Homo sapiens: one gene and its partners. The protein of the gene in region 4 interacts with the protein of the main gene of each other region in a biochemical or structural test. Each region holds a gene or a part of one and is shown on either strand. Other genes may lie near its edges.

What was found.
Region 1: the proteins of IKBKG (region 4) and CYLD form a complex in vitro, tested with the Homo sapiens proteins (3 studies listed by BioGRID, with this or other methods).
Region 2: the proteins of IKBKG (region 4) and RIPK1 form a complex in vitro, tested with the Homo sapiens proteins (4 studies listed by BioGRID).
Region 3: the proteins of IKBKG (region 4) and BCL10 form a complex in vitro, tested with the Homo sapiens proteins (3 studies listed by BioGRID).

The regions. Positions count from the first base shown.
Region 1 is NC_000016.10:50,738,008-50,745,086, reverse strand, and holds the start of CYLD (ubiquitin carboxyl-terminal hydrolase CYLD), read right to left. Parts: upstream 3,002-7,079; 5' UTR 2,963-3,001; intron 2,932-2,962; exon of another isoform or gene 2,871-2,931; intron 2,783-2,870; exon of another isoform or gene 2,710-2,782; intron 2,673-2,709; exon of another isoform or gene 2,425-2,672; intron 2,417-2,424; exon of another isoform or gene 2,340-2,416; intron 2,326-2,339; 5' UTR 2,246-2,325; intron 358-2,245; exon of another isoform or gene 221-357; intron 1-220. UniProt on the Homo sapiens protein: Deubiquitinase that specifically cleaves 'Lys-63'- and linear 'Met-1'-linked polyubiquitin chains and is involved in NF-kappa-B activation and TNF-alpha-induced necroptosis.
Region 2 is NC_000006.12:3,099,482-3,106,505, reverse strand, and holds part of RIPK1 (receptor-interacting serine/threonine-protein kinase 1), read right to left. Parts: intron 2,282-7,024; coding exon 2,191-2,281; intron 1,085-2,190; exon of another isoform or gene 1,025-1,084; coding exon 455-1,024; exon of another isoform or gene 1-454. UniProt on the Homo sapiens protein: Serine-threonine kinase which is a key regulator of TNF-mediated apoptosis, necroptosis and inflammatory pathways.
Region 3 is NC_000001.11:85,273,625-85,280,876, forward strand, and holds the start of BCL10 (B-cell lymphoma/leukemia 10), read right to left. Parts: upstream 3,009-7,252; 5' UTR 2,729-3,008; coding exon 2,672-2,728; exon of another isoform or gene 2,392-2,671; coding exon of another isoform or gene 2,176-2,391; exon of another isoform or gene 1,542-2,175; coding exon of another isoform or gene 1,539-1,541; intron 1-1,538. UniProt on the Homo sapiens protein: Plays a key role in both adaptive and innate immune signaling by bridging CARD domain-containing proteins to immune activation.
Region 4 is NC_000023.11:154,550,596-154,557,619, reverse strand, and holds part of IKBKG (NF-kappa-B essential modulator), read right to left. Parts: intron 5,633-7,024; coding exon of another isoform or gene 5,618-5,632; coding exon 5,431-5,617; intron 1,456-5,430; coding exon 1,244-1,455; intron 1-1,243. UniProt on the Homo sapiens protein: Regulatory subunit of the IKK core complex which phosphorylates inhibitors of NF-kappa-B thus leading to the dissociation of the inhibitor/NF-kappa-B complex and ultimately the degradation of the inhibitor.

The DNA of each region.
Region 1 (7,079 bases), on a different chromosome or scaffold from region 4:
TAACTGTGTGATTATGAATATCTTGGTAATAAATACTGAATGAAAATTACCAACGAGTTGAAACACAATAATATGTTTAACCCTAAAGCCATGTTGAACAGAAGGCCTTTCCTTTAAGGACGCTGATGAAGGAGAACAGTTCAGGTTCACATAGATTTGAAAACATTTCTGGTTATCTGAGCTTGTTGATGGTCTGGATTCTGAGTAAAGGGGAACTTACTTGTATTAAGATGAAGTCATTCAACCAAGACGAGAGTTGGAAGGCACAAATATTTATCAATTTTCCATGAAGACAATGGAAAGATGATCAGGAAATATGTTTTACATGAAAATGTTAAAGATTACAATTACCACATTCTGAAAGGCAACATATAGTACAAATGAACATCAGTAGCTACAGAAAACTAACAATGGTTAACTTATCCAGAAGATGCAGTGTTTTTCTGATTCTCAAGTTATCAGGTTATATTGTTCATAAGGATCTCACAAAGACAGATCCAATTCAAGAGCTTTTTGCATCTCCAAAGATATCCTGCTTGTTCTAAAAACCACAGGAAGCTATTTAAATTAGAATAAAACTTACAATACTTAATTCTGCCCCTAATTATAAATGGCAAAGAGGTAGGAAGGTCAGCTTGAACACCAAAGAAAGAAGACATGTGGGCCTTTTTCCAAAAGCTTCTGGATAGCTAGAATGATCATCCTTTTAAAAGAGAACATCTCTCACTAAAAGACAAAGTTGTTATATTTCTAAACAGCTAAAGAATAGAGATACAGAGATTCCGTGGCCAGAAAAAAGACTGAGTCCGTTTTAATTTTCCTCAATGACTAATTTGTGTCACAAGTACACAGTCCCTAATACAAGTGGGATTTATAAGGTTAAAAAAAAAAAAGAAAAGAAGAGCCTCTCACATCTGCATATTCCCACTGGAACAAGGAATACTGCTGCCTCTCTAGTGTTAAACCTAGCCACTCCACTGCCAAACTGTGAATTCCCCAAGTCCTTCATTTTTATATTATCCAGTGCCCACACGAGAGCCTGGCATATGCTAGGCACTGAATACAGAGAAATGAATGAAAGACTCAAGTGGTAACAGTGAAAACAAAATTGCATTTCCTCCTCCTGTTTAAGGGATTAAACCAAGAGAAAGAGAAGAGAAAAAGACTCAGGAATTGGGAGTATTTAATGAATTTTGCCTAAAACTTCAGTAATTCTCTAGATAAAATGAAATCATGCTAAACCACTTCATTGTTATACATATAAGAAGAAACAAATACGGAAAATTTCACAATTACGAAACCAAGTTGTTTTGAGGTTTATTTGATACTAGCTTCCTACAGCCTCAACTAGCATGTATGATGCTTATAAATTCTGTACAACCAATGAAAAAAAAACTAATTTAAATCATAGTGTGAAAATCAGGAACAAAATACTAATAGTTTGATAAACAACATAACTATTCCTTTCTCTCTCCCTGTGTTGGAGACTTCCTTAAATCAAACAAAACCACAGTTTAGGTGTGCCAGACTATAAAAATCATTGCTGCTTAATGTTAGTTGTGCTTTATATAACAAGCCTTATCTGCTTCTCACAAAAGTTACCACCCAGAGGAAGGTTTATTTGCAAGAATACTATACAATTTTGCAGCAGAATATTAGAGAATGTTCTGGGTGTTACTTCAATAAGAATTTCCAGCAAATCATTTTCTCCTAATACTGTTCTAGTTCAAATCCACCTACTGCTCAGTGGGGAATGGGAGGCTAAATTCTTAAGGCCATTCAGTCTACTTGGGGCGTGAGGGGGTGTGTAGAAAGCCAACAATCAAACGAACACCCTCTCAAGGCCTGGGTGCTTCTCTGAGAGCCAATGATTGCAAAATGAACAATCTTATTAAGATCCCTAATTAGCCCGAATTCAAAAGCAAGGTAGGCATGCTCCTTAGCTGAGCTAAGGATAAAACTTTCCAGGAAAAATTGAGGAGAAGAAGGTGGCAGGGATGATGGGGGCTGGGAGACTGCAAGGCCACAGGCTTGGTGGCTGGAAGATGACAACTATCCTAAAACATTCAAATGCCAAGGGGTGGAAGAGAAACGATGCCAAGTACATGAATAACCGGCAGCTGACCCAGCTGAGTACCAAACTCAACACCATCTCCTGAAGATTTCATGACTTCGCCCCCGCCCCCCATTCGCCCCCCACCCCCCTCGATTGTTAACATGAAAGAAAAACATAAAGAAAGAATACCTGTCACAGCAGGGCGCACCTTTCAACTAAGGAACTCCGGGTGGCTGTGTAGAACCATCCTCACCCTAGAAAGGGGGAAACTGAAAGAAAAAGCAGAACACGCCATTAACAAGGCCAGAACCCCGACTGCCATTCCTGGACGGGAGCCACCAACACCCGCAAAATCGATCGGTACGTACGCCCCGCGGCGCGGTCGGTAGGAATCACAGCCCCGGGCTCCTGAGGCCAACCGTGGCCGTCGGGGCCCGCCAGCGGCCTGTGCCTCAGTCTCCCAATCTGTAAATGGGGTGGGGGGCGGGAGGGGGACAGCGTCCCGCGCGGCTCCCGCCCCAAGTCCTCTCTCCTCTGGGGGTCCCGATGGTGGCGACCCCGCACGCTCCCCGGACTCGCAGCCCTCCCGGGAAGCCTCGGGGGATGGGGAAGCCCCGGTGGGGGGGGGAAACCCGGGCTGACGTCAGCGGGCTCGGCAACCCGCGGGCCCGGCCGGCTCGGGCCCGGGCAACTAACGGGCCGGCGCCGAGGGCCCGATGGTCGCCGCGGCGGCTCCGGACGCCCTGAGGCCAGGCGGCTGCGCCGAGGGGATCCGGCCGCCCGCCGGCCGCCAGCCGCCCGCTCATTCACTAACCTCGGGCGGCGGGGCGTCGCCCCTCGCCCCGGCTCCCCAGCCCGCGTCCCGGGCCGGCCCCGGCTCCCCACACCCACCGCCCTAGTATTTACCTCCGACGCGCGGCCCCCGCGCAGCCAAACCTGCTACCTGGGCCCGCCCCCACCTGCCCCGCCTCCGAACCGCACAGGGAAGAGGGAGGGAGCGGGGGCGGAGGGGGCAGCCGCCGCGCTAGCCAATCGTAGGCCGAGCTGCGCTCCTGAGCGGGCCGTGATTGGGCCTCCCTGTGACAGACCTTCCTCCAATGGCTGCCAGCCCGGCGCCGGCCGAAGGGACTTTCCGCTCTGTCAAGCTCGGTGGAACCAAAGGGAAAGCGAAGGGGCGGGGCAGAGAAGAGCGGCGGATGGAGGCGGGAAGCTCAAGCTGATTGGGCGAAAGGCTGTGGGTGCCGCGTCACCATTGGCTGATGCTGGAGCCGGGGCGGGGCGCTGCGCTGCCACCAGCTCCGCCTCCCGTGCTCCCGCCTCAGCTGTCAAAACTGTAGACGCTTAGGTTTGGGCTGGGTTAAGAGTCCAGATGAAGGTTGAAATAGGATTCCAGGATGCCGTGAGAGAGCAAAGCTTTAGAATCAGACCTCAGTTTGAATCTTTGGCGCTTTCATTCAGTGGCTGCGTGACCTGAGGAAGTCACAACCACGCTGAGCCTCAATGTCCTCATCTGTAAAATGGAGATCATAGTATCGGTTGTCTTACAGGATTGTGGCAAAATACCGAGCTAAAGTTCCTGGCACGCAGTACCAGCTCAGGAAAGGTTCATCTCTTCCTCCTCCGCAGATTCAGCCTGGGACGCTTGCTGTTTCCGAACCTCTGTTGCCACCTATCCCAGTTTGGAGGGAATTTTCCCAAGGATGGTGAAGAAGGGATTTCCACACGCCGCCTCACTCAGCCCCGCACCCCTGGCCACCAGCCAGGACTTAGGGTGTAGTTAAGGATCTTTCAATTAGAAGGGAGGCTTCTGATTCCCAAAAGCACTCAAAATATTTAAGGAAGTGCTTTTTATAATCAGTCCTAGAGCCTTGCTGCACTGGATACTCCTGTTAATTAATTTCTTCTCCTTTGACATTTTAAGTGCTAATTATAGGAGAAGGTGATTAACACTGAGAAAGGAGGAGGGGTGTGTGTGTGTGTGTGTGTGTGTGTGTGTGTGTTTTTAATCATGACACAAATTTCCCCCAGTGGAAAGTGACATGTTTCTGGAGATCCAGGGAATTTAAACCAATGAATACATAAAAACAGTCACATGAGTGATGACTAACAGTAGCAGTAGACAGGCCACCACTCTTCCTTGCCATAGTCATCCAAAATGAAATGAGCATCTTTTGAAAACCTAAGCCTCATTCTACTCCTGTCCCTCTTTTGTCACTCCTATCTTCCTGTTTTCCAGGCTTCATGACCACACTGCTGTAGGAAGCCATAAGTTGGAAATCAACGGGCCTGGCTTGAAGTGTGGCCTTAGGCAACACCGTTCTCATCTACATCTGGATTCTCCAACAAAGCTGGTAGGACTCAGAGGTCACAGTCCAACTGTCTGGAAGAAAATTTCAGCTGAAATTTGTTTTTGCCTAACCCATACGATAAGGAGGAAGGAGAAAAGAATGTGAAGGAGAGAGATTTGGGGTCCTTTTAGGCAAGGCAAACATTCTCATGTTACCACTGGGACCACTTCTCTTATCTGCACGATCTACATCCACTGGTCCCTTAAGGCATCTGAGTTTGCCACTCTGGACTAGAATATTTTCATGTCCCTTCTTTTTGTTTTTGTTGTTGTTGTTGCTGGGGTGTTTGTTTGTTTGTTTCTTTGTTTTGAGACAGAGTCTTGCTCTGTTGCCTAGGCTGGAGTGCAATGGTGCGATCTCAGCTCACTGCAACCTCCGCCTCCCAGGTTCAAGCAATTCTCCTGCCTCAGCCTCCCAAGTAGCTGGGATTACAGGTGCCTGCCACCACACCCAGCTAATTTTTGTATTTTTAGTAGAGACAAGGTTTCACCATATTGACCAGGCTGGTCTCAAACTCCTGACCTCAAGTGATCTGCCTGCGTCAGCCTCCCAAAGTGCTGGGATTACAGGCATGAGCCAATGTGCCCGGCCTATTTTTGTGTCCTTTCTGTTGATGGTGTTTGGTGCTGCTGAGGTCTCTACTTCCATAGGGCTTTCGTCCCCAGGCTCTGTCCTGTCATACGTTCACTGAATCAGTGCCGGGGCCTGACTTCATCTAAGGGATCTTCATCCAAGTCAAGCCTGACAAATGGGGCTTATCTCAATTATCATTTCCTATCAATTGGGAATGGCTGCTTAGAACATTGCGTTAAAGCTAATTCTGAACTTATATTCAGGCTCACCGGGAAGAGAGATATCTGCCAGGGGATAAGATGGGGAGATAGTGTCATGGTGCTATTATTTGCAGTCCTTGGTGAACCAGCCTCTCATTTTACAGGTAGTAGATGAAGGCCCAAAGACAGTAAATTACAAGCCCCTGTCACTCAGGAGATGGGCCGAGACCCTGATTCCAAGCCAAGACTCTTTCCACCTCTGTTAAAATGGATTCCCCAACTGAAATGCTCATCATCTCTGCCTTCCAAATCCTCCCTTCATGGAGGACCTAGTCAAAGTCCTTTACAGACATGTCTTCACAGAGGGCTCCAGCCCTCACTAATGACCTCTCTCAATCCACCACCCCACAGCCTCTTCCATCCAGCCTGGTCCTGGGTTCATGGAACTAGCGGTTGTGTTACTGAGCAGGTTCCAGGAAACATAGCAGTGTACAAGAGAGATGCCACACTCCCTCTGGCAAAAAAAAAAAAAAAAAAAAAGGCAAACTAAAATACTCATTAGATGATCACTTACTTAATTATGGCTGTGGTAAGCCTCAGAAGAAGAATCTCTCTGAGCATGCCTAAAGGGAGGTTGGCCACTCAGGGAAGGCCTGTTTGAGGAAGTCACCTTTGAGATGAGATGGGAAAGATAACTGGCAGGCAGGAGTGAGGGGGAACACTCCAGAAATAGGAAACAGGAAAGTGCATGACCTGTTGAAGAAACTGGAAGAGGCAGAGCGCAGACAATGAAGGCACAAAAGAGCCTTGGGAGCCAAGGACAGGGGTTGTTCTCCATCCCAAGAGCAATGGGAAGTTGTGAAGGGTTTTGCAGGGAACATAACACTGGTTCTTTTTTTGTTTTTTGTTTTTTGTTTGAGATGGGGTCTCACTCTGTTGCCTAGGCTGGAGTACAGTGGCACAATCATAGCTCACTGCAGCCCCCGTCTCCTGGGCTCAAGTGATCCTCCCACCTCAGTCTCCTGAGCAGCTGAGACTACAGGTACGCACCACCATGCCCAGCTAACTTTTCTCTTTTGAGTAGAGATGAGGGTCTCACCATGTTGCCCAGGCTGGTCTTGAACTCCTGGCTTCAAGTGATCCTCCTGCTTTTGCCTCCCAAAGTGCTGGGATTACAGGCATGAGCCACTGTGCCTGACCTAACACTGATTCTAAGCTGTCTTATGTAGTTCTCTCATTGCACACAGCGGGACCCTAACATAAAGCTATTGAATTGAATGGAGCTTTCCCCACGGAGGACGGTGAACTCCAGGTAGCCTGCTAGGGGCATGGGACATAGAGTAACACACCGTCAGGACTCAAGGGAACCTGCTCAGTGGCACCGGTCATGATTATTGACTAGACCCTGCTCCATGCTTCCCAGTGCCTACCACGGGGTACCTCCTACTTGCAGTCTCTCCAAATTTGGTGTCTCTTTTATATCCTACTGCCTTCTCAGCATCTCCACTCAACACAGCCAAAAGCGAACTCCTGATATTCACCACCACCACCCCCTGCAATCCCTCTGCACTCCCCATCTTAGTAAATGGCAACTCCCAGATGTCCATCCAACCTCCCATGGTTCCAGCCATTTTCCCACTAATCCTGTGAATATGGGCATTCAGAATGAACACCAGGCCAAGTGGCTAACTGGACCAGGTATCCGCACAAGCAAGGATACGTCACAGGCGCTTTCTCCACAGTAGCCCAGCACAGTGTTTTGATCCATGGATAACGGGCTGAGGTCTTCCATCTCTGAGATGTGCTTATCTCTTAGGGAAGGGAAATTCCAAGTGCAACTGAACATTCTGTCTGAGGACTTTTACTCTGACCACCTAAAAGCTCTTTTTGATAAGATAAAGG
Region 2 (7,024 bases), on a different chromosome or scaffold from region 4:
CTGATAGAGATATGGGAGTTAAAAGAAAATTTTTCATCACTAATGGTAGTCTTTGAGCTATATAAGGTCAGAAACAAAAATATCCAAGACTGATTTCTTACCTTCAAAAAGTAGCAAGCAAGGTAAAAGCAAATAAGCAGATAACTTCCCATTTATCAGAGATTGGGTGAAATAGGACTACTATGCACTCCAGGTTAGAGTCAAAGATGCCTGCCAGTCACAAGGACCTGTAACCCGATGCTTGCGGGCATCTGTGATGAATCCTAGCCCCAGATGAAATACTCCCAGACCAAGTGGTTTGGCAGGGTCCATTCCACAGGGGCAATTTGCATCTGGCAGCTGATGATGCCCTCTGTCCCCATTATAACCCACAATCTATAATAGAGCTGCTTGGTTGCTGTATTTTCTGAAAAATAAAAAAAGACAAGCTTGTGACTATCGAAGACCCATTTACCTGTTGGTGGCAAGGAGCTGAATGGCATGGTGGGTGTATTTCCTAGATAGTTGGTCTCAGGCACTGGGATATTATGCAGACTAGGCATATGACTTGGAATTGGCCTGTACCAAACTCTGGGACCTGCTGTTCCTGGATCCAGTGGTCTTGTTCCAAAGCCATGTGAGCTATATAATCCATTGTTCTGATACAGTACTTGAGGTTGGCTGGTGAGCCCTGAGGGCTGGTGCACTGCATTACCATGACTGGCTGCACTGGAATAAGCAGTGCCTTTTCCCTCTGTATTCTGAAAATTCTCGTAAGGTCTTTGCTGTGCAAAAGGGTCATGGGAGACCCTGCGTCTCCTTTCCTCCTCTCTGTTGTAAGCCACATTCTGTCTGGGCTGCTGTTTCGTCTGCCTGTCCATGCGGCTGCCATAAAGATGGTAGTTGGCTTCGTCTTGGAGTTTACTCTGCAGGCTGGGCTCATTCTCTTCTTGTGGGTGCTCCAGGGAAGGAGCAAACCAGGACTCCTCCACAGGACCCATCCCAAGTCCCTGGGAACTGTGCAGTGAACCAGGCTGTTCTGTGGCTGAGAAGAAATGATCAACATTAGAATGGGTGTCATGAAACATTAAAAAGTAAAATAAAATCTGAGCGCCGTCATGAATCTGTATCTCAAAGTAACACACAGAAAACAAGTACGAGACCAGTCCAAAGCATTTAGGAGATGGTCCTCTTCCCACAAGCTTTACAAATAATAATAGGAGCTCCTCGCTGGCAGTAAGAGAGTACTAGGAAAATTATAGCAAGCAAGAGAAAAGCGGCTGTTGCAGGGATGATCAAGGAAAAAAGGGACTTGGTTTGGAGCAGAGAAGGTGGTTGTCTCCTTGGAGCAATTCAGGTGGAAAATAAGATCTGTGGCTGGGTGCGGTGGCTCACGCCTGTAATCCTAGCACGTTGGGAGGCTGAGGCGGACGGATCACCTGAGGTCAGGAGTTCGAGACCAGCCTGGCCAACATGGCGAAACCCCATCTCTACTGAAAATACAAAAATTAGCCGGGCATGGTGGTGCATGCCTGTAATCCCTGCTGCTTGGGAGGCTGAGGCAGAAGAATCGCTTGAACCTGAAAGGCGGAGGTTGTAGTGAGCCAAGATCACACTACTGCACTCCAGCCGGGGTGACAGACTCTGTCTCCAAAAAAAAAAGATCTGCAGCAGCTCTGTCCTAAGCATGTCCCATGAATTCTTTCATTCTTGAAGAGCCCTATGAGAGGAGGAGCAATTATGATTTGATGAGTGAAGTTTAGAAGAGGTTAAGTAATTAGCCACAGATCAGGTAGCTAAGCGGCTTCAGTATCCTATACTCTGCCATCCCTTTTGTTACAGTGAAAAAAGTATCCCTACTTGACCTGAGACCAGCCTCTCTGCTTGTACCCTGGCTGTAAGTCACTCCGAGCTCCTCAGGGACTTTGCTCTCACATATGTCCCCTTCCTTCTTCTGAACTGTCACTTCTCCCCATCAGATATATTAGGCCTTTTGTTCAGAACACTCTATGACTGGTGAGCACACTGTTACTTCATATTTCAAATACATGTAACTTGACTCTCGAATATTATTATAAATTCCTGTAAGGCAGGTGTTCACTTTTATAGTTTCTTCTGTTTCCCATATGGTCCTGAATAGTCTTTTAGAGAGTGGAGTGAATGAGTAACCAAACAAATAAATGAATAGATTTTGACCATAGTGTAATTTACCTGAATTTGACCGGCTTGAAGGTACTGCCACACAATCAAGTTGAAGAGACTGCATTCTCTTCACAACTGCATTTTCGTTTGAATACTCTTTCTATAATTAAGAGCATAAATACACACTTTAGTGAACAGCAGGAAATAGAGTCCCAGAAAATTTTAACGAGAAGAATTCATATTTTCAGAAGGTAGAAATTTCACACAGATCTTACAAGTAGTAATTTTTTAAAATTAATGTTTTTCCCAAATAGCCAAAATGATCTTTAAAAAGAACAAGGTTGTAGGACTCACACTTCCTGATTTCAAAACTTACTACAAAGCTACAGTATTCAAAACAGCGTAGGACTGGCATAAAGACAGGCACATATGCCAGTGGGGCAGAATGGAAAGCCTAGGAATAAACCCTCCTATAAATGGCCAATTGATTTTTGACAAGGTTGCCAAGAGCATTCGATGGGGGAAAACTGAATATACACATATGAAATAATGAAGTTGGACCCTTATTTCATACCATATAAAAATTAACTCACAATGGATCAAAGACTTAATTTAAGGGCTAGTGCCACAAAAATTCTTAGAAGAAAACACAGGGAAAAAGCTTCATGACATTGGACTTGGCAGCGATTTCTTGGTTATGACACAAAAGCACAAACAAAAGTAAAGAGTAAAAATAATACATCAGAATTAAAAGCTTCTGTGCATCAAAGGATACTATGAAAAGAGTAAAAAGATAACCTACAGAATAAGGAAAAAATACTTTGGGAGGCCAAGGCAGGTGGATCCCATGAGGTCAGGAGTTCGAGACCTGCCAGGCCAACATGGTGAAACCTTGTCTCTACTAAAAATACAAAAACTAACCAGGCATGATGGTGTGTGCCTGTAGTCCTAGCTACTCGGGAGGCTGAGGCAGGAGTTATCTCTTGAACCTGGGAGGCAGAGGTTGCAGTGAACCAACATTCTGCCACTGCACTCCAGTCTGGGTGGCGACAGAGCAAGATTCTGTCTCCAAAAAAAAAATAAATAAATAAAATAAAATAATGGGGAAAAAGTTGCAAACAATATATATCTGAAAACGGATGAAATCCAGAACATAAAAAAAAAAAATCCTACAACTCAACAACAAAAAACAAACAACCCAATTCAAAAATGGGCAAAGAACTTGAATAGCAGTTTCTCCATAGAAGATATACAAATGGCCAATAAGCCATGAAGATGCTCAACATCATGAGTCATAGGGAAATGCAAGTCAAAACCACCATGAGGTACACTTTCACACTCCTTAGAGTGACTATAATATAAAAATGGTAAATAAAAAGTGTTGGTAAGATGGTGGAGAAATTAGAATCCTTGTGCATTGCTGGTGGGGAATATAAAATGGTGTAGCTACCATGTAAAACAATTTTAACAGTACTTAAAAGTTAAACATGGCCGGGCATGGGAGCTCACGCCTGTAATCCCAGCACTTTGGGACCTCAGATCACCTGAGGTTAGGAGTTTGAGACCAGCCTGGACAACATGGTGAAACCACCCCATCTCTACTAAAAATACAAAAAACTAGCCGGGCGTGGTGGTGTATGCCTGTAATCCCAGCTACTCGGGAAGGTGAGGCAGGAGAATCGCTTGAACCCGGGAGGCGGAGGTTGCAGTGAGCCGAGATGGTGCCACTGCATTCCAGCCTGGGCAACAGAGGGAGACTCTGTCTCAGAAAAACAAAAAGTTATACATAGAATTACCATATGATCTAGCAATTCCACACCCGGATATATATACCCCAAAGAACTGAAGGCAGGAACTCAAAATATGGTGCAGGTGTAGTATCCCTTATCCAAAATGCTTGGGATTAGAAGTGTTTTGGATTTTGGATTGTTTCCAATTTGGGAATATTTGCATGTACAGAATGACAGATCGTGGGGAGAGGACCTAAGTCTAAACATGAAGTTTATTTGTGTTTCATATGCACCTTATACACATAGCCTGAAGGTCACTTTATACCATATTTTAATAATTTTGTGCATGAAACAAAGTTTGAGGATACTGAACTATCAGAAAGCAGAGGTGTCAGGTGTGGTATTTTCCACTTGTGGCATCATGCTGGCACTCAAAACGTTTCAGATTTTGGAGGATTTTGAATTTTGGATTTTGGGTTTAGGGATGTTCAACCTGTATATCCATATGATGGAATGTTATTCAGCCATAAAAGGGAATGAAATTCTGATACATGCTATGAAACAGATGAACCTTGAAAACATTATGCTAAGTGAAATATGCCAGACTCCAAAGGAAATACATTGTGTGATCCTTTTGCTAGGAGCTACCTAGAATTCAGAGACAGAAAACAGAATAGAAGCTACCAGGGGCTGGGAGAGGGAGGAATGGGGAGTTACCGTTTAGCAGGTACAGAGTTTCAGTTTGGGATGATAAAAAAGTTCTAGATATAGATAGTGGTAATGGCCGCACAACATTATGAATGTACTTAATGCCACTGGATTGTTCACTTAAAAATGGTTAAAATAGAGAATTTTATGTTAAGTATATTTTGCCACAGTAAAAAACTTTTTCCTTATAGGAGCAATAATCCTCATTATAGAAAACATAGAAAATTATATATTCTTAAAACCTATCCATAGTTTTGCCCTACACCCAAAGATAAAATGTTAACACTTTGGTATTTTTCCTTCAAGTTTTTTTTTTCCTAGTTTTATTTGTATTTTGCTGTTAACGATTGTCTGCTATATAAATAAGTGGTCAAAAATACTAGCTAAATGAATACATGCATGATCTAGGGGAGAATGACAGAGGGTATTAATTATGTTCACACTTTGTAGCATTCTATATATTGTTTTTGTCTCTTTGCATGTTTATTTTTAGAGATCAAATCTGCCTCTGTCGCCCAGGCAGGAGTGCAGTGGCATGGTCATAGCTCACTGAAACCTCCAACTCCTGGGCTCAAGCAATCCTCCCAGCTTGTCCTCCCAAAGAGCTGGGATTACAGGCATGAGCCACCTCACCCAGCTGTATGTTTATTGTTTTTAATTAACATGAAAAGGGTTTTTTGTTGTTTTTTTTCTTGAGACAGAGTCTCACTGTGTCCTCCAGGCTAGAGTGCAGGCTCAACCTCCAGGCTCAAGAGAGCCTGCCACCTCAGCCTCCTGTGTAGCTGGGACAACAGGCATGCGCCACCACGCTTGGCTAATTTTTGTGTTTTTTGTAGAGATCGGTTTTTGCCATGTTGCTGGTTTTGAACTGGCCTCAAGAAATCCACCCACCTCAGCCTCCCAAAGTGCTGAGATTACAGGCACGAGCCACCCTGCTTAGCCTAATATGAAAAGTATTTTTGTTATTTTAATTTTATCAAATTGATTTTCTTTTTATAGTTATTTTTATTACACAAATATGTTAAGTACAAAGTCCTTTTGAAAGATTCAAACAGGCCAGACATGGTGGCTCACGCCTGTAATCCCAGCACTCTAGGAGGCCGAGGCGAGCAGATCGCTTGAGGTCAGGAGTTCAAGACCAGCCTGGCCAACATGGTGAAACCCCATCTCTACTAAAAGTACAAAAAAATTAGCTGGGTGTGGTGGTACACGCCTGTAATCCCAGCTACTCGGGAGGCTGAGGCACGAGAATCACTTGAACCCGGGAGGTGGAGGTTGTAGTGAGCCCAGATTGTGTCACTGCACTCCAGCCTGGGTGACAGAGTAAGACCGTCTCAAAAAGAAAACCAAAAAAACCCCCAAAGATTCAAACAATGCAGAATCACATAGAATAACATCCAAACATTCCTTCAGCACCTACTCTTCCATTCTCTAGAGGTAAGCCTTATCCAGAGTGTGATGCATATCACTCTTATTCTCTCTCTAGGAATTTGCACACACATTCCAGAAATATATATATATTTGAGACACAGTTTCACTCTGTTGCCCAGGATGGAGTGTAGTGGCACAATCTTGGCTCACTGCAACCTCCACCTCCCGGGTTCAAGCAATTCTCATGCCTCAGCCTCCTGAGTAGCTGGGATTATGGACATGCACCACCATACCTGGCCAGTTTTTTTTGTATTATTAGTAGAGACGGGGTTTTACCATGTTGGCCAGCTGGTCTCCAACTCCTCACCTCAAGTGATCTGTACAACTCCGCCTCCCATAGTGCTGGAATTACAGGCATGAGCCACTGCACCAGGCCAAAATATATATATCTTTAACATTAAAAGGACCACACTGTAAGTATTGTTTTGTGACTTATTTTTTTCACTAACAGCTAATCTTGAAGATCTTTCTATATCATTACATGTTAGTTTCCACCTCTTTCTTTTAAATGGCTATTAGTATTCTGTAGTTTAGATGAATCATAATTTAGGGCAGTTACTTATGGACATTTGAGTTGTTTCTAATTTTTCACTCTTATAAACTAAGGTGCAAAGAATGGAAACTACATCTTTGAGTGCACGTGAGCAGTATAGATTACTGAGAGTAGAACTGCAGCCAAACTTATGGGCTTGTGGAGTTTGTTGGGTGCCTCACCTTCTAATAAACTTCGCCACTCTTACCAACACTGCAGAAGACTGCTTGTTATTCTGCATTTTCACCAACACACTGTATCACTAATCTTTCAAAAATTTCAATCTAATGGATGAAAAATTGTAACGGGTTCATTTTGCCTTTCTCTGTTGGCGAGGCCAAATATCTTTTCTGAAGTATGTTGTTCAGTTTCTTTTTTGAATTGTCTATGTTCTTTGTCTATTATTTTTCTTTTATTTTGGTTTTTTTGTTTGTTTTTTTGAGACGGAGTCTCACTTTGTCACCCAGGCTGGAGTGCAGTGGCTCCATCTCGGCTCACTGCA
Region 3 (7,252 bases), on a different chromosome or scaffold from region 4:
TACATCCTCTTCCTCAACTCCCATGTTCAATCCATCACCAGGTCATATCATTTCTATTTCAAAAACTGCATCTGGAATTCTGCTCCATTCATCTCCACTGCCTTCACCCTGATCCAAATCACCATCCTCATTCATCTCTATAGATTCCAAGAGCCTGCTCACTGGCTTCCCTGTTCTTATTCTTGTTCTCCTCAGTCCATGAAACAGGCAGAGGGATCTTTAAACTATACAATTCTTCAACAAGTCCCTACTATACTTGGGGGGAAAAAAACCCCAGATACTTTACTAAAAGGCTCTTCATGAAAATGGCTCTAGCCCACCTTCCTAACTTCACTTCAGATTACCCTCTGCCTTCCTCCGATTTCCCCAAGTCACCAGGGTCTTGCCTATTTTAGGTCCTTGACAAATTCTATTCTGCCCAGAATGCTCTTCCCTCAGTTCTGTCAAATCTTTCAGGAATCAGTTTAAATATAACCTCTCCTGACCATCCTATCTCAAGTCGATTTCCCCTATTATTGTCTTGGCACTGTTTGATTCCTTCATAGTAATTGCAATAATGAAAACAAAATTTATTTATTTGTTTTAAACTAACGTCTCTGTTTGAAGCAGGCAGCTACGAGGTATGTTTTAGCCAACACTGTATATCCTGCACTTACTAGGGCACCAAGTAGTTAATGTTTCAGTTGAATGCAAAACTCACTGCACTTATTTTGTGATTTAAAACAATCCCCCTCAAGAAATTGAGCTCTTTTCAAGTTAGGATTGTGTTTTCATTTTTAATTTTTGAACTGTTAGAACCAACCACAGTATCAGCCTCACAGTAGCATGTAATCCATATTTATTAAACTGTACTAAATCCAACTAACACAATGAGGCAAATAACTAGATAGGAGGAGGGGGAGACACTAAAGAAGTGGGAGGTCCCAAGACAAAGGGTGGTAGCACACCATTCATCAAGAAAGGCAATACAGCAGCAACAGTAAGCAACTTTGGGAAAAGGATAGTAAAAGTTCAATATTTGACAAGGTGAGCAATCTGTAGGATATAAAAGTAGATTTCCAGTAGACATTTGGAAATAAGGACCTAGAGTGGAGAGAAAAGTCCAAATATGTGGATAATTTTAAAACTCTCTAAGATCAGAAGACATTTTGAAAATATCATGAAAAAAACCTCTAAGAAAAAAGCATGCACATAGTTTCTTTCATAGACCTTTTGAAACCCATCCATGGTTTCCTCAAGGTTATTTATTTCTGATATAGGCGTAAAATGAAATCCTGAAGACAGATAACATCAATGAATTGACAGAGAAGAACAAAGACCTGGAAGCCACTCTTCACATCTGTACTTGTATACAGATCTTATTTCCTTCCACTTGTAATTTCTCAGTTCCTGTTTTATTAGCTGTAAAATGGGAATGGCAATTATCTTCTTTAGAGGTTGTTGCGAAGGTTAAGTGGGAACATTGTAAACTGTGTGACACAGCATCTGGAACATAGGAGGCCTAGCTCTTGGAAGTTCAAGGTTTTACTGGCACTCACCATGAATAAGACAACATTTATTCTACAGTAGTTATTTATGTTCCATTCTTATCTCAACTAGAATGTAAAGCAGGAAACTGATCTTCATTTTTTTGTATCCTTCCAGACCCAAGGCCAGTGCTTTCCATATAGCAAGTGCTCCATAAATCTCTGTTGAATGAGGAAACTAAGCACAACTCCCAGTCATATCCAGTTTCCTTCTGCTGGTGAGTCACACCAATTGTGAGTACAGTGTAATAAACCTTACAGGGAAGAGGAAGGGATTTGAAGTGGATGAACATTTAAAAAGTTGCCATCCTGTCCAGTTCATCAAAATGACTTTGTAAAAGTACTGCAGTGTTCAATAAGAACACGTTTCATGTTGAGTTTCTGTTTTTCATTTGACTTCAGATAAAGTATTTTAGTGATACTCATATAGGTCTCATCTGACAAAACAAGTAAACGCAAAGGAAAAAGAATGTCATATCTCAACAAAGCCATTCGTTACGAATAAATATGAAGGTTTATGTGGTTCTGCACCATCCGAGAAGAGCATAATTTAGCTACTGAATATTTTCGACGTTTACCTGTACATTAATTCTCAGCTACGTGTATTCACTCCCCCAACCCCAATTTAAATATGTGGGCGTCTGCTTACTAGGGGAATTCCAGGTTGTGCTTTCAGCTGTTGAGCTTCCTCAAGCCCCCTTATGCAAAAGAGCTTCACATTTTTGGTCCACTGCTTGGGATCCTTCACCTGGTACAGCCTTCGCTCTAGGCTGAGTGAGCAGCCTAGGCAGCCTGACTTAAGGATGAATCTGAGCCGCCAGTCCCTAACGAAGCATCTCCAAGAACCCAGTTGGGGGGAAAGCATGAGGAGATGGGTGAGGAGTGGGCAAGAATCAAAACACCACTTGGCAACAAAGCCCAAGCTCTGCGTTTAGCGATGTAAAACCTGGATTGACAGATCACTGGAGGATCACTGCCACCAAGGTCCCTCGGATGCAGGGCTCGCCACAGTCCTCCTGTGCTAGGACTTTCCGCTCCTCCGACCTGGAGGATCCTCCTTGTCCTCGGACTCCAGGCTTCCGCTTTCGTCTCCCGCTGGGCTGCAGCCCGCCCCCGCCCGCCCTGGGCACAGCTGCGTTACTCACGTCCTTCTTCACTTCAGTGAGGTCCTCCTCGGTGAGGGACGGTGCGGTGGGCTCCATGGTGGAGGCGGGAGATGGCGCTTCTTCCGGGTCCGGGAGCTCGGGCTGCGCCGCCCCGCCCTGGCTGGGGGCTTCGGCCTCCGGGTAATGGGGAAGAAGGAGAGGAGGCGGAGCGGGTCGGGAGAAAGACGGCCGCCCCTTCGGGAACAGAGGGACTCGGGGGTCAAACCGTAGCGCTTCCGGCCCCGCCTCTGAGGTCGACGGCGACGCGAATCTACGCGACGCGACGCGGAGCTCGGAGCAGCGTTCCTTCCCTCTCGTAGAGGCTCAGGCGCAGGCACCGCCCCACGGCGAGGCGCGTCGCTTAGCAGAGCCCGCCCTGTCTCTGCGGCAGCCTATCGACGCCAGCCCGCGGGCCGATCCTGTTCCCGCCCCCGACCGGAGCCTTTCGGGTGGCTCCGCCCACAGCGGGCGTTTCCTCAAGCCACGCCTGCGCAGGTCGTCGGTAAGTGGCCCGGGTTAGCTTCCTCATAAGGCATCGTTTCCGTGGGTGGGGTCCGTCAGTGCCCAGGCAGCTGGCACTCTCAGCCTTTGCTGCCTGCTCACTTCGGGGGAGTCCGGTCTGGGCTTGTCAGTACCTTGGGTTCCTCCCCTTTTCCCAGACCCTGCCCTACAATTTCCTGTTGTTACGTTTGCCAGTTACTGTTTTGGTCACACACAAACGCACTCATACACACATACACATGCATACACACAAACAGCCTAACTACAATACTAAACAAATTTTTGAAAGAAAAAAAGAAACCACCTACAATCCCACCACTTTAACACCTCATTTAACGTTTGCATACTTTTTGGTCACTGTTCATTATAAACATAGCTTTTCCTCATTAGTTAATCTGTGTAATGGAGATAGATATGCTTACCTTTTAGGGCTGCCGGGATCATATGTAAAGTTCTTAAAGGTAGTTGGGCACACAGTATGCACTCAACTGATTATTTATTTATTTATTGAGACAGGATCTCACTCTGTCGCCCAGGCTGGAGTGCAGTGGTGCGATTCTCGGCTCACTGCAGCTTCCACCTCCAGGGCTCAGGCGATCCTTCCACCTCAGCCACCAAGCAGCTGGGAGTCCAGCTAGTTTTTTTGTATTTTTTATAGAGATGGAGTTTCGCCATGTTGCCCAGGCTGGTCTCAAACTCCTGGGCTCAAGCCATCCACCCGCCTCGGCTTCCCAAAGTGCAGGGACTACAGGCATGAGCCACCCAGCTCATCCTACTCAAACATTTATTGAGTCCTTACTAATATGTTCTAGGCAACTTATACTATGAGTCCTCCATTTTATAGGGGGAGACTGATGAAGAGACGACTATCCCCAGACCGTATTTTAACTACTATGGCGCTGTGTAAGAAGCAACCTGAGAAGTGTGGATGAAAAGCTACAGGTAGAGCCCTGGGCCCAAGACGGTGGCTTGGACAACATGCTAAATAAACTATAAACTAGATGGTATTTGAAGCTACGAGAGTAGATAAAAATGACAGGAGGACCAAGGAGAAACTTGGGAACGCCAATGTTTAAGAAACGGGAAAGCAAAAAAAAAAAAAAACACACACAAAAAAACAATGTAACCAGAGCCACAAAAACCAGAATCACAGCAAGGGATTCTGATGTTTACATTATGTCCTGTTTCCATGTTGACACATTACACAAGGACAGTTTTTTTCTAATTGCTTAATTTTTCATCATCTTCCATCCGATTTACTGAACCATCCTTAACTTTAGGATGAATCCTTTCATTTAACAAATGTGTTTTGAATGTCCACTATGTGCCAGACACTGTTCTAGGTGCTAGGAAAACAGCTGTGAACAAAACCAATAAAAATCTCTTTCCTCATGGAATTTATATTCTAGTTTATTTGTGTTTGGGGCAGACGAGGTAGGCACTTGAAAAATTTTATCTAAGTTTATTTATTTATTTATTTGGAGACAGAATCTCGCTCTGTCACGCAGGCTGGAGTGCAGTGGCACGATCTCTGCTCACTGCAACCTCCTCCTCCCAGGTTCAAGTGATTCTCCTGCCTCAGCCTCCCCAGTAGCTGGGATTACAGGCGCATGCCACCACACCCGGCTATATCTAAGTTATTTTAAAAAAATAATTAATTAATTTATTTTTTTGAGACGGAGTCTCACTCTGTTTCCCAGGCTGGAGTGCAATGGCACCATCTCAGCTTACTGCAACTTCTGCCTCCCGGGTTCGAGCGATTCTCCTGCTTCAGCCTCCTGAGTAGCTGGGACTACAGGCACACACCACCACGCCCAGCTAATTTTTGTACTTTTAGTAGAGACAAGGTTTCACCACATTGGCCAGGTTGGTTTCGAACTCCTGACCTCAGGTGATCTGCCCACCTCAACCTCCCAAAGTGCTGGGATTACAGGCATGATCCCCCACGCCTGGCTATATCTAAGTTATTTAATTTATTAGAAGATGATAAATACTAAGAGGAAAAAATAAAACAGGGAAGTAGGATGAGGCTGTATGGATTGGTAAAATTTAAGCTAGGGTGGTCATGACCTCCCTGCTCACTTTGGAGGAGTCTGTCCTTGTCTTGTCAATACCAAGATAAGGGATTTGATTTATGCTTAAAGGAAGTGAGGGAGTGAACCGTGTGGATATAAGGAGAGAGCATTATGAGTACAGTCAGCAACCAATAAAAATGCTCAGTGTAACTGGAAGGAGATGATCTCCTTGTGTGTTGAGTCATATGGGTGTGCTGAGTCAGACGGGAAGCCACTGGAAGGTTCTGAGCAGAGTGACATGATCTGATTTGTGATTTGAAAAGAAGCACTTTCACTTCTGTGCTAAGGGGAAAGAAGATGGAAGAGGGAAAACCATTTAGGGAGGTATTGCTATATCCAGGCCCCAGGAGGTTGTGGTTCAGACCAGGGTGGAGCAGTGAGGGTGGTGGGAGCATTTTGAAATGAAGCAAGGAAGCAGTTTGATTTCATTTTGAAAGGATCACTCTGGCTGCTAAGTGGAGAGTAGATGGCAGGGGCAAGGGCAAGAAGCAGAGACTACGTGGAGGCTACCACAATGTCAGGTTCACGACTGAGCCAAATGTCATGCTTGGGGTCAGGTTCTAGCCCATGCTGAGGTCCAAGGGGAGTGGGTGGATGAGCAGAAAGAACACTCAGGGGACCGTAGGCAGGTAAAAGATGATTTTACTCAGCAGCAGCTCTCATCAACAGCTTTCTTACACTAGCTCTCTACACTGTCTGCCCTGTCTCAGGTGCTTAGTCTGGCGGCTCCCCCACACAGCTGCATGGCCGACTCTCCCTTGCCTTCGGGGTCAGCAGCTTAACTCTTCCTCTCTCTGGGCATGAGCAAGCCGAGCTGTGTCCTGGCTCCCCACTGTCAGTCTCCAAGAGGGTCAACTCTGGCTCTCTCTCTCTCTCTCTGGGTGTCAGCACGCCTGCACGATGTCAACAGGGCAATTATACCTTTTACAGACAATAGTGGCTTAGAGCCAAGGGATGGCCTTCCCATGTTATGGCTACATAGCTGTGATAACAAGTGGAGTTATATGCCTGCGCTCTAAACTCGCTGAGTCCCTGTGGATGTTTACCTCGTCCTATCCTTGACCAAAGCACAGCCATGTTCCTTACACACAGCCATCCAGGCACAGCTTAGGATGGCTTGACCAGGGTGGGGGCAGTGGTGAGCACTCCCCACTGACACCTTAAATCCTTCCCAAGTGTTCATTGTTATTAAAAAATTGTCATAGAATTTACATATTTTCATCCTTTTTCCTTTCAAATTATCATTGCCTTTGCATAAATTCCCAGAACCAGGAGTACAAAGCCCAAGGAAATGAATATTTTATGGCTTTTCTTATATATGGGTGCTCTCCAAAAGGGCTGTGTTGGTCTATCTGTGTGTGGGAATGAACTGTTTTTACCACAGTCAAATCAGTTCTGCTGATGAAGGGGAGGATTCACCCATCAAAGCAAGTGAATTGAATGCTGCCAATTTAATGCACTCATTTTGATTTGGCCATTTTGAGATTGCTACTGCACTGTTGTTCTTTTTAAAGGAAACATTTTAAACCCACCAAACTATAAAGAATATTACAAACACCCTACGCTCACTACCAAGATTGAGCAGATACTGATATATTGCCACATTTGCTTGTCATGGCTTTTGATTACCAAATGTTAGTGGCAGACATCTTTGATTCTTGAACATTCTTCCATGCCCTATACATCTGAGTCTTTCTCTTTCCTTGACCATCATTTCATTTCTGACACCTCCAACCCTTTTCTATCCTCAGTATTCATTCCCTTATTTATTTAGTCAACTAAAAAGTTAAGTGTCTGCCCTATGTTAGAATTGGGAGTTACAGAATAAGGATCAGGGATTGGGCGGGACTGAATGAGGATTCCGGGAGTTTTTTTATAGCTGAAAGAGTAATATTTTGCTTTTCAGACCATGTGTCAATGTTCCCAAGATGAATTGCCTAGCTTAAAAAGCCACATCTGAATACCACGTGCTTAATCACAGAGCTCGTTTGTGGCAGGCTTTGCA
Region 4 (7,024 bases):
ACACGGCTGGCCTCGCGGCAAGGACGCTGGCTGCCCCGTCATCTTTCACCTGAGCCTGCACTCGCCCCCTCCCGACTCCCTCCTTCTCCCTTCGCAAGGCCAGGCCGCCTCTGCTGGGGCGGGAACGGAGCTCAGCTCTCTCCCCCGCAAGCAGGGGTTTCTGAAGAAGATCTCTTTTGCCAGCTTGAACAAAGGCCCGCTTTTGTGTACCTTTGTGTATCTCCGGTGTTCTTGTCAAAAGAGGAGGACAGGCACAGAGGCCCGCGGGGACAAGGCCACAGGATGACGGAGATGGAGGCTGGAGAGGTGCAGCCGGCGGCCCCCGGCGCCGTGGAGAGGCCTGGAAGGCAGCTCCCTCGCGGCCCTGGCGGGGAGCCCACCCTGCCGACACCACCGCTAGCTCAGCCTCCAGGCCTCCAGAAGCGGGAGGCCACGCGTTTCTGTGGCTTCGGCCCCGCAGTCTGTGGTGCTTGGTCACGGCAGCTGTAGAAAACTCATCCACTTCCCACACAGGAAATCAACGCCTTAAGCCAGGCGCTCTAAGCCCTGAGTGGAGCGGCGTGCACAGCCCACCATCCACGCCTTTCCCCAGGGGAGTGGAGCCTGGCTGTGGCAAGTGCCAGGTACCCGCCAGCAAGTCTCCTCTCCAGCACTTCTCTCCACCTTGCCCCTCAAAGGGAGCACGGCCCCTTCCTGACTACCATCGCCAGGATCCTGCGATCAGCCAAGCCCACACACAAAGACCCTGAAACCAGGCGGTCTGTGCTAATGACACGATTTATGGGGGGAGCCTTGGGCCACACAGCTGGACCTCTGGTGGCTACAGCCGAGTGACCAGGGTTGGCCACGCAGGCGCTCGGTGCCCACGCGGCCCACCCCCCGTGAAAACCCCGGCCGCCACGGCTGGGGTGAGCTTCCCGGTTGTGACTCCGTGCTCGCTGTCCCACACTGTTGCCGAAAGAAACAGGTGCCGTCTGCACAACTCCCCTGGGCGAGGAGCCGCTGAAGCTCACGCCTGGTCTCTCCTGGAGCCCGCCCTGTGCGCCCTGAGCCTTCGCTCACCGTAACCTGTGTCCTTTCCTTGTAATAAACCGGAACTGGGAGTGTGACGGCTTTTCTGAGTTCCGAGCCCTCCCGGCACAGCACTGAGCCCCAGGGTGCTTTGGGGGACCCCGACCACGGGTTCCCTTGTGGAACACTGGCGTCACCGCGGGTTTTCAGAACCTGGCCCTGCCCCGACTACCTGCTGGCATCTCTTCAGGTGCTCCACCTCCCGCAGAGCCTGCTCCTTCTGCCTCTTCAGATCGAGCTTCTCCAGGCCGAGTCTCTCCACCAGTTTCCTGGCCTCCTGGAACTTGCACATGAGGAACTCCTTCTCCTCCCTCTGGCTGGCTTGGAAATGCAGAAGCTCCTCGCAGCGCTCCCGCAGAATCTGGTTGCTCTGCCGGATGGCATCTGGTGGCAGAGGGGACAGTGGAGGGGAGCTGGGCAGCCCGGCCTGCCGGGCCCTGCCTGGGCCCACATGGGCCTGAGGCTCAGGAAGTCAGAGGCCAGAAGTGGGGCCACCCATCCTGGTGCCCCCACCCGCCATAATACCACGCAGCTTCTCTCAGGGGTGGATGGCGTCTCAACACTCCCTTTTGTTTCTTTAAACACTTCCAAAATCCTTTACACTAATGCCCCTCACTTTCTGCAAGAAAATAACACCAAACACATCAGCTTCACTTAAAAGTACGTGTTGGCCAGGCACTGTGGCTCATGCCTGTAATCCCAGCACTTTGGGAGGCCAAGGTGGGTGGATCACCTGAGGTCAGGAGCTCCAGACCAGCTTGGCCAACATGGTGAAACCCCGTCTCTAATAAAAATACAAAAATTAGCCCGGTGTGGTGGCACACGCCTGTAATCCCAGCTACTTGGGAGGCTAAGGCAGGAGAAGCACTTGAACCTGGGAGGTGGAGGTTGCAGTGAGCCGAGATCACACCATTGCACTCCAGCCTGGGGGACAGAGCAAAACTCTGTCTCAAAAAAAAGAAAAAAAGTATGTGTTAAATGCCACTTTTTTGAATTTTTATTTTTGTAGAGACAAGGTCTTGCTATGTTGCCCAGGCTGGTCTCACATCGTTGGCCTCAAGCAATCCTCCCACCTCGGCCTCCGAAAGTGCTGGGATTATAGGCATGGGCCACTGTGCCTGGCCTTATGCCACTTTGTTTGTAAGTGACTCGAATTCATTTGTATTCTGGTCAGTCTGAGGTGTGCCTGCCCTCAGATGCTCGGTATTGGTCCTCCCTGGCCTACATCTCTGCTGTCTTCTAGATCGGGGGTCCTAACACGCCTGCAGACTCCTAGGGTCAGCCTCCCAGGCAAACTTCACTGCAGCATTGCTGGCTGCAGCCTGAGAGGCCCAAAAGGCTTGGACCAGGCAAGTTAGTGGCGTCTCTGAGCCTCAAAGTCCTCATCTGCATAGTGAACAGAGACAAGAACATTCATCTTACAAGACGAGGAGGGTTAAACGAGGAAGCAGAAAACAAACGGGAAAAACCGCTGGTCCTCCCCTCACCAGAGCATGTGTGCCAGTGCCAGGCAGTCAGCAGAGGCCACAGGAAGGAGAGCCCCACACCCAGGAGACACCCCAAGTAGTGAAGAAGCCATCTGAGGTGACAAAACTGATAAGTGATGTGCCAAGGTTCTAGCAACTCTATAGCAACTACAGAGCTGGATAAAATGGGGCAGGCAGTAGCTACCCCGTGATCAAAACCCTCAACCAACTAACTATTGCCTGCTGACGAGCGCAACATCCACCCCCCATCAGAATCCCGCTTGCTCTGCCCAAAGCTCAGCTCATCTGCAACTTGTCTTTTTTTTTGAGACAGACTCTCGCTCTGTCGCCCAGGCTGGAGTGCAGTGGCGCGATCTCAGCTCACTGCAACCTCCACCTCCTGGGTTCAAGCAATTCTCCCTGCCTCAGCCTCCCAAGTAGCTGGGATTATAGGTGCCCGCCACCACGTCTGTAGCTAATTTTTGTAGTAGAGATGGGGTTTCACCATGTTGGCCAAGCTGGTCTCAAACTCCTGACCTCAGGTGATCCCCCCGCCTGGGCCTCCCAAAGTGCTCGGATTACAGGCATGAGCCACTGCACCTGGCTGGCAACTTGTCTTTTAAAAAATGTTCTGAACTGAGGTAAAATTCACATGACATCAAATTCACTATTTTAACTAATTCAGCAGTTTTCGGTGTATCCATCAGGTTGTGCAACCATCCGCACTATCTAATTCCAGAACAGTTCCGGGACCCCATAAGCAGTCGCTCCCCCAGCACCCTCCTCATCTGCATCTGCCTCTGCAGATTGGCCACTTCTGGACATGTCTCACACTAGTGGAGTCACACACTAGAGACATGCAACTTCTTCGTGAATCTCTCCCTCAACATTCTAAGTACAGCCTCCTCCATGGACATAAGCATGTACATCTTGGGGGACAGACATCTTCTGGGCCCTTAGGGGCTTGGCCCAGGGCCTGACACATGGAGCTACCAAGTTTCACCTGCCACCCACAAAGCTCAGGTCAGGCGGAGCAGGGGGAGTCAATACAGCCTTGAGGCCTCCTTGTGTCCCTGGAGCCCGAGGGAAGCTGCTGCACTGAACACACAGCCTGGAAGGGAAGCAAGGGCGCCATACGCTGTGCCAGGGTCCCTGCACAGCTGGCCTGCAACACTCACCCTCAAGTCCCCCTCAATAGAGCACTCTCCTGGGGATGAGCAGAAGCCCCCAGTCTAACTGTCACCTCTCTGTGCACCAGTGCTTTGAAGATCCCAATACAGTGGGTCTCACCAGGGACAACTGTATCCCCCAGGGGTCATTTGGCAATAAATATCTGGGGATATTGTTAGTTGTCACAACAGGACAGGTGCTACTGGCATCTAGCAGGTACAGGCCAGGGACTCTGCTCCACACCCTACAACGTACAAGAGAATTCTCCAGCCCCAGGTGCCGATGGCACTGAGGTGGGGGACCCTGTCCTGGAACAGGCAGGTCATGTTGGGTCTCCATGCTCCAGCAGGGCCTCTCCAATTCAGCCTCACCGTCGAGGAGACCAAGCAGCCCCCTGACAGCAAGCTGACTGCACTGACCCCTTCCTCCATGGAAGGAAAGGTGATTTGCCTTGACAGTAAGAGGAGACACATCGCAGGCATGGGTCTTGTCTCTGCCCACGGGGTGTCAGCCAGAGCCACTCTCTGAAGCCTACAGACTATGTGACTTGTCAGCACAGAGCCCCACATAACATCTCGGACCACAGTCCAGCAAAGAAGGCGGGGGAGTGGGCCCATGACAGCGATCTCTAGTAGTCACGGCACATGCCACCTCGCCCAGGAGCTGCCAGCCAGCCAGGACACGGAGAGCCAATTGAAGCTGCCAGCTCAGGGATGACTCCTGCAAGGAAGGGGTGTTGTCCTCCACGATGGGGTGGACACTTAGGCCTGAGTCCCCAGCAGGAACCAAAGGATGAAACAAAAAGGGCTACAGGCCCCACCACACCCAGTGAGCCATGTGGGGAGTCTATGCCGCCCCTCCCTGCAGCTCTGGGACCCGAGGCTTAGAAGGCCCCCGCAGCAGAAAGGCAAGAGTATATGGCGGGTGCCACCTGGCCCCGCCAGGCTAACCCAGGGCAATGCAGAGCAGTGGCAGGGAGAGGGGGTGAGGGGGAAGAATGGCAGGGGCTGGGGGTGCCATCACGCCCAGGGCGCGGGCAGGAGCGTGCAGCTGAGCCCTGAACCCATGACGACCTGGAGCTGAGCAGCAAGAGGGTGAGGGGCGCCCGGATGGCAGTCTAGGAAAGAACTCCCCAGTCCCAGCCACTGGGTGTGGGAAGTCAGCCTTCACCTCCGCTGAGGTGTGCGCCGGGATTGCCCCAGAGGAATGTTGCCTGTGGGGGCCACGCACCTTCCTTCCCAAGACAGACCACGCCCCTCTACCAGGGCATGCCCCGCCCATTTCCAGGACAGGCCCCACCCCCTCTCTGGGCAGACCACGCCTCTTCCCAGCGCCGACTCTGCCCTGTCCCAGGATGGACAGCACTTCATGAGTGCTCAGTGCAGGGACACAGAGGCCTGGACATGTTGGTCCAACCTGGAAGGTTCATTCCAGCTCCAGAGCTCCCTGTAAGATCCAGCAAGGCTGTCCTGGAGCCTACCCGGCAGCGTGCTTCTCCCTCTGCCCTCCCTGGCTTCTTCCCCTGTCCCTCCTTTCCCTTCCCAGTACTGGTCCTGAGAGCATGCTAAACTTCCTCCCCGCTAATCTGCATCTCAGAGTCTACTTCCTGAAACCAAGAGGGAGGGCAGCACATCCCCACCCCAGGCCCAGGAAACGCAGAGGTGCAGGTGGGGAGAAGACGCCTTCCCCTCAGCAGGGCTGGATCCCCTGACTCTTTCCTCACCTCGGAGCTCTTGATTCTCCTCCAGGCAGCGCTGGAGGGTCTCAGGAGCGCCCTGTTCTGAAGGCAGGTGCAGCATGGCTGGCTTCCCCAGAGGAGACTCTTCGCCCAGTACGTCCTGATCTGCTGCCGGGCCACCACTGGGCTGCACCATCTCACACAGTTGGCTCTTCCAGAGGTGCCTATTCATCCAACAGGGCAAGGGCTGAAAGAGAAAGGCAGCAGGGGAGTCACAGGAGACCCACATCCTTACCCAGCAGAAAAAGCCTATGAGTTCTGGGGCTACATTTTAAACAGAATGCTGATAATTCACCTAGTGTATCAGGATGCTAAAGTGGGTTTTCAGTCTAAGGGGTAGCAGATACTCCCATTCCAAAGGGAGGTGCTGGACCACCCATGTGGGACTTGAAAAGGCCTAGCTCCAGGCTGGAAATAGAAGAATTTCACCAGAGATGGGAGAGTCGGGACAAGACTGTTTGTGGAGGGAGATGTCAGTATGCTGGGAATCCTGATCCCCTACACACCTCCAAGCAGGAGAAGTGGAGGGTACCGGCCCCTCATCCAGTGTAGTGGGCTGAATGGTAGCCCCCCGAAAAGATATGCCCATGTTCTAACCCCTGAAACATATGTGATTCGGGAAAAGGGTCTTTGCAGATGTAGGATCTCAAGATGAGATCATTCTGGGTGACGTGGGTGGGCCCTAAATCCAACAACGTGTCTTTATGAGAGACAGAAGAGAGAAGCCAGAGGGAGACGCAAGGGGAGGAGGCCATGTCGGGACTGCCTCGGAGACTGGAGTGAGGCAGCCACAAGCCCAGGAATAAATGGGGCAGAAGCTTGGGAGAGGCAAGGGAGGATTGCCCTCTTAGAGCCTTTGAGGGTGTGTGCTTGCTAACCCTTTGGTTTTGGACTTCTAGTCTCCAGAACTGTGAGATTAAAATGTCTGGCCGGGCGCAGTGGCTCACACCTGTAATCCCAGCACTTTGGGAGGCCGAGGCGGGCCAATCATGAGGTCAGGAGATCGAGACCAGCCTGGCTAACACGGTGAAACCCTGCCTCTACTAAAAAAAAAAAAAAAAATTGCCGGTCACGGTGGCTCACGCCTGTAATCCCAGCACTTTGGGAGGCCGACACGGGTGGATCATGAGGTCAGGAGATTGAGACCATCCTGGCTAACACAGTGAAACCCTGTCTCTACTAAAAATACAAAAAATTAGCCAGGCATGGTAGCGGGCGCCTGTAGCCCCAGCTACCCAGGAGGCTGAGGCAGGAGAATGGCGTGAACCCGGGAGGCAGGAGAATGGCGTGAACCCGGGATCGCGCCACTGCACTCCAGCCTGGGCAACAGAGCGAGACTCCATCTCAAAAAAAAAAAATACAAAAAATTAGCAGAGTGTGGTGACACGCGCCTGTAGTCCCAGCTACTCGGGAGGCCGAAGCAAGAGAATCGCTTGAACCCAGGAGGCGGACGTTGCAGTGAGCTGAGATTGTGCCACTGCACTCCACCCTTGGCTTTCAGAACAGCCCCTTCTCCTGGTTTCCTCCCTATCTTGCTGGCTACTCCTGCCCAGGCACTCTCACTGGGTTCCCATCCTTC